Linked DNA regions of Homo sapiens: region 2 is linked to region 1. Evidence: fine-mapped expression QTL. A gene starts in region 1. The other region holds a variant in brackets. All regions are shown on one strand. Distances are from middle to middle.

Region 1 (2,765 bases):
TATCTCCATGTTACTCTTCCAATTCTTAGAGTCCCTCTCTTCCCCTAAACAATGCTCTACACACAAGAGGCTTTGTGAGTTGTGGATTTAGTCTGTTGTAACTCCACACCATACAGGATTAGATTTCGCATCTGATTCTTACATCAGCCCTGCAGCCCCAAGAGATGAGAGATAGCTTTGAGGGCTATCAGAGAACTCCCTGTATTCTGCACATACCTTGAGCTGAGAATGTAAAGCCCTGGGACTGTCCTTTTCTTGCTTTAAACTCTTTGGTGTGATGATAACAAGCTCACCCCACAGTCCTTAGATAACCTGTGCTCGTATTGCGTATGGAAGCCACAACTCTGCCAAAGCCACAATTTAATAGGTACTTCGTTCTGAGTGATGACAGGTAATTATTTTGCCATCACAGGCTACGATCTATTAGAACTCCATTCTCTAACAGTTACTAGGTCCCCACTGCCTTTAAATCAACCAGAACAAGTAACCAATCCCAGTTCCCATCCTGGAGGTCGTGTTGCCTGCAATTGTTTCTGGTAACAAATCCGAAGTTAATTGGGATTCAGTTGCCGATGATTAGAGTCTCTTCAGTTGTTTGGAGGAGAAAGGAATCTAACATAGGAAGCTGTGTGATTCTCAAGCTGTTGGAAGGCTGGAGGCAGCGCCTCCAGCAAGGACTCTTGGAAGAATACTGCAGAGCTGGCTCCTGAAGGAAGCTGCCGAGTCAGGCTGGCCCTAGAAGCATGCTTTCTGGGTTGAATGCTTTAGGTTCACCTCTGCAGATCCACTCCCCACCATTTTCTCTCCTCACATCTATGGGCCGCAGCAGGGGACTTCTTTTCTCTGGCTTCTGGCTGGATGTGGGCAGGGGAGGCCCTGGCAGGAGGGAGGAGAGTGAGGCTTGGTCATTGATTCCTCCAGCTGTGCCCTTCTGCTGGTTCACCATGAGCTGGCTGTGTCCCTCTACCAAAGGCCACAGCTCCTATCCCGAGGCCCCTCTTAGAGCTTCAGTGATTCTGTTCCTGGGCTCTGCCACCCACTCCCTCCTTCACCCTCTAGGTTTTGAAGAAGTAACAGCTCCCCATGTTGCTAGCCTGGGGTGTAGCACTGTCTCTTCTGGGTTCCTTTAACCCTGCCCCAGCTGTCCCTTTATTAAACAGTCTTCAGTTAGCACATGGGAATATACCGTCTCTTTGCTGCTGGGACTGTGACTGCTGCTACATCTATGTGGCTGTGATCCAGAGTCAGAAGCCACCACCAGAACCACTGTGTCCAGAGCTGGGCTGAGCCTGCTACACACGCCCCAGCAAAATAGGTCCTGCACGGTGGCTTCTCTCCCCACCTGTTACAAGCCCCAGTCTAGCACGGGCACTTCAGAATGGCAGGGACTGACTCATGTGCCTCAGTGTCTTCCTCTGTAATATGGGGGTGATGATTGTACCTACCTCACAAGGAAGTTTCCAGTAAAATGAAAGCCCTTAAAATTATGTTTGTTTCATCACCAATGACTCCATAAATATTAGCAACAATACCAGTACTAAGTTTTGTCATTTTTTATTAACTTCTTGTAAACGACCCTACTTTCCTGCTCTCACACACTCCTTACACCTGCATCCCACCTGATTTAGCCACTTTCTGCCTAACCTGTCAGAAAGGGTAGATAGCTTCCCAGTCACCTGTTGCTAGGGAAACTCACCATTTCAGCCCGGATGGTGAAGATTCCAGCTTGAGAGACCAGCTCGGGTCTGAAGTGTTTCTCTATCTACTGTGCTGAGATCTCTCCTTCTCGAACCCTGCTATGCCTTTGCATACGCTGTTTTCTCCACCTGCCACGTTCTCACCCCTTCTTCTTCCACTGCAAACTCCTATGCAGCCGTCAAGGCCCCATTCTCCTCTGGAAAGCCTTCCCGATCCCCTTGGCAACAACCACCACCAATATTTATTCACTGAGCCCACTTTGTGCCAAGCATTGTTCTAGACACGGGTATGTAACCGCGATTGAGAGAGACAGACCACGCACAGCCTGGATTTTATTTTAAGAGCTATTGGGTGCCGTTGGTGGGTTTGAGTGAGTGGGGTCAGGAAGTGACTCACTCCTCCGAGGGCTTGTGGGAGCCTCAGCTCAGGGGCGGGCAGGGGGCGTGGGGAAGTCTGCAGCCGAGAGTCCAGGTAGGAGTCTCCTGCGTGGTCCCGGGAGAGGAAGGGGCCTGGCCCGGGGCGGGGTGTGGAGGTGGGAGGACGGCGGTGCGGGATGGAGGGTGGAGGCCAGGCTGACAGGGTGCTGGTGGTGGGTTGCGGGGGTCGACCCCAGGCTCTGGCCTATGTAGCTGCCATTTTGGAGGTGAACAGCCTGCGGGGAAACTGGCATGGTTTGGGGAAGGCGGGGAGAGGGGGAGAAATGAAAGCATTGAGTTTAAGTGGCCTGCAGAACCCCGGGGGCCCAGGCGGCACGGCGGGCGCTGGGGCTCCGGGCAGAGCTTTCTGGAGGTTTGTGGCAGCTTCACTTTCACGGCATCCACCCCCCTCGGGCCCTGCCGCAGAGAGGAGGAAGCTCCTGCCGGCTGAGCGGGCCTGGAGGAAGTGAGCAGCGGGGCTCCTGCCTCCCGGCCTGGTCCCCGAAGACCCCAGAAGAACCCGGAACTTGCTTCCATTCGGAATCCAGGGACCACCCTTTGCACTCAGTAGGCCTTTGTTTTCCTGCGTGGAAAGCGGTTGGGTGAGTTCTGGCATCGGGGCCACCATACTTGAGTGTTGGGGGTCACGGA
Region 2 (3,032 bases), 33 kb after region 1:
TCTCTCTTCCTCCATCCCAAGAAATCTGACTCCAGTAGAAGTTGCAGCCGAAGTTGGAAGCAGGATAATTATAGCAAGCTGAACAGGAAGGCGTCCAGGGCCAGAGAAGGAGCTGGCAGCTTGGGCTGGGTGTGCAAACAGCTTCGAAGCGAAGGGAAATGCCTCGAAGGCTGGGGTGCCTCGGAGTTGAGCTGCTTCCCAAAATAATCCAGAGGGCAGCTGTCTTGGAGTCTGAAACTGGGTCTGGCCGCCTGAGCTGCAGGAAGCCCCAGGACTCACACCAGCTCCACTCTGGGAACAGATGGAACTAAGATTTTTTTTTTTCTTTTTACCAAAGTCAGCTGGTAAGCGAACAGCTTGTCTAGAGAAAAGTGTGTTCCTGCCCCCATATCTTCTGGCAATGGATCAAAGCTGCCAGTGCCATCCCAACCCCCATCCCTGCCCCACCAGCCTTCTTTCCTTGTAAGACTTGGGCAGTGGTGAGCAGAGGGGCATCATGGACCTAGAGACACATGGGATCCCCACCCCCTGGGGGTGTAGCCCAGGGAGTGTCCTGGGCCCCTAGGTCAATGGGGGACTGGGCTGAGGGGCCTGGCTGGTAAGAAAGTAGATGATGAAGATGTTCCAGAAATGATTCTTCCAAGAAGAGTCAGCCAATGGACCTGGGCTGGCCAACAATTGCATGAATTCATTTATTTATCCACAAGCATTTCATATGGGTTGGTTTATTATTACCTAGAAAGGTGATGCATTAATACCTAGGTGGGTTTTTACAAAGGTACAAAATCATAGTGCACACACCATTCATAAGAGAACTTCTCCACCTACTGTGTGCAGGCCCAGGGCACAGAGCTGGGTATAAAGAGAGTGCTCAGACCGAGGCTCTATCCCAGAGGAGGTGTAGCCCAGGGTGGAAGGGGCTGGGTAGTGCAGTGGTTAGAGTGTGATGCTTGAGTCAGACCCTGGGGTGTGAATCCTGGGCAAATCCTCACCTCACTCTGTGACCCCAGGCAAATCACTTACCTCCCTAAGCCTCAGTTTCCTTCTATGTCAAATGGAGGCAATAAGGAATCTATTCTTCACAGGGCTATTTAAAAAGTTGAGTATCTGGAGAGCTTGAAGCTTGCTGGACACATAACATTCAATAAATGTCAGATGACATCATGGGTGTCATCATCACCATCACCACCACTGTCACCATCATCACTATCACATCATCATCACCTCCATCATTATCACCATCATCACCACCACTGTCACCATCATCACCATCACGGCATCATCATCACCATTATCATCCTCATCACCTCCACTGTCACCATCATCACCATCACATCATCATCACCTCCATCATTATCACCATCATCACCTCCACTGTCACCATCATCACCATCACATCATCATCATCACCATCATCCTCATCGTCACCTCCACTGTCACCATCATCACCATGACATCATCACCACCATCATCATCAACATCACCATCATCACCACCACTGTCACCATCATCACCATCACATCATCATCACCTCCATCATCATCATCATCACCTCCACATCATCAACATCACCATCATCACCACCACTGTCACCATCATCATCATCAGATCGTCATCACCATCATTATGACCATCATCACCACCATCACACCACTGTCACCATCATCACCATCACTGTTAC[TATC/T]ATCACCATCACATCATCATCACTATCATCACCATCATCACTACCATCATCATTGTCACCATCACCATCATTGTCACCATCATCACCACTGCTGTCACTATCATCACCATCACATCATCATCATCATCATCATTATCATCATCATCACTACAGGCACAAAAACAGTGCTGGAAGTCCCTCCTCCATAGGTCCTAGTGAGGATGCAGTGACATGAGGTACGTGAGGTTAGAGGCCTGGCACGCCTTTGGCACTCAGAGTTAGGCACTAAAAGGCCAGCTCATCAGGTGAGTCCTACCTGGATTTTGTGTCCCTGCTTCTAGGCTTTGCTTGTTGGAGACCCACAGCAGCACCTAGCCCTGGGTAAATACTTGTGGACTGACCCACTAACGTGACCTCTTAACTCTCCTGGGTGAGTCAGATCCAGACCTGCTGCTTCAACTTGCAGCCCACCCAGCTGGCCACCCCAGCATCCCAGGATGCCAGCATTCAAGCGGGGCTTAGCTCTGACTTGAACCCATCTTCTTGGCCCCTGTGCTGGGCCAGTAGGCTCACCAGCTCAGCTGAAAACACAGGGACAAATGGAGGACCTCTGGCTCCATGATCCCTCTCCTTTACCCGGTTGTCTGGAGTAAGAGGCAGGAGTGTGATATGGGAAGTCCTGGCTCCAGTCTTACTGGGCCCCTTAGCAGCTGTGTAGTCTTGGACAGGTCACTACCCCTTTTTGAACCTGAGTTTCCTCATCTGTAAAATGGAATGATCCTGCCTGCTTAGTTCAACCCCCACGATGGTAATCCATCTTAAGGATGAACTGCAATAATGGTGGGCAGGGTTTTGAAAAGTCCTATCAGCTAAACAATGGCCAAGGCTAGCACTGACTGGGATCTCCACCTTTCTTCAGCAGCCATGGCCCAGATGGCCTGGCCACCTACCAAGCCCATCTGCTCTTCCTGCTGGGCACGCAGCTGGACTGCATGCCCCACCTTCTTTGCAACCCAACGTGGTCAATAATAAAATGTGAATCAAGTAAAACACAACATTGCTGAGCCTGGTCCTCAAACCCAGTCCCCTGCATGACCTGATACTCCTGTACTCCCCGATGCTCTGGTGATGCTGACTAGCCTGGTGAGATTGCAAGCCGTGTGCTGAGATGCTGGAGCCACAGACGGAGTCACCCTGGGAGGAGAGCTGCCTGCCAGTCAGGAACACTCGTTTTGAACAGTATATGAGCAAGAAATATTTGAACTCCTACTCATTTGGTGTGTGTTACAGTAGCGGTGGAACAAACACTATAGCACTTGACTAAAACAGCTGCATCAACTCTATTTAATCATTCATTTTATTTCAATTA

Evidence for each region. PIP is the estimated chance that this variant, and not a neighbour inherited with it, causes the effect. A credible set is the group of variants that fine-mapping cannot tell apart.
Region 2: its variant is the best candidate, but not a certain one, in a credible set for the expression of PARVG in whole blood (TOPMed, PIP 0.55).

The regions. Positions count from the first base shown.
Region 1 is chr22:44,179,202-44,181,966 of GRCh38, forward strand. It overlaps PARVG (parvin gamma), which reads left to right and starts at 1,724. Exons shown (of 14, transcript NM_022141.7): 1 at 1,724-1,984; 2 at 2,541-2,716. RefSeq lists silencers at 985-1,034, 2,205-2,334 and enhancers at 1,711-2,441, 2,442-2,765.
Region 2 is chr22:44,212,226-44,215,257 of GRCh38, forward strand. No RefSeq gene overlaps it. Among named protein-coding and RNA genes, the nearest start is that of PARVG, 33 kb to the left of the region's middle. The variant TATC/T (reference allele first, on the strand shown) is at 1,682.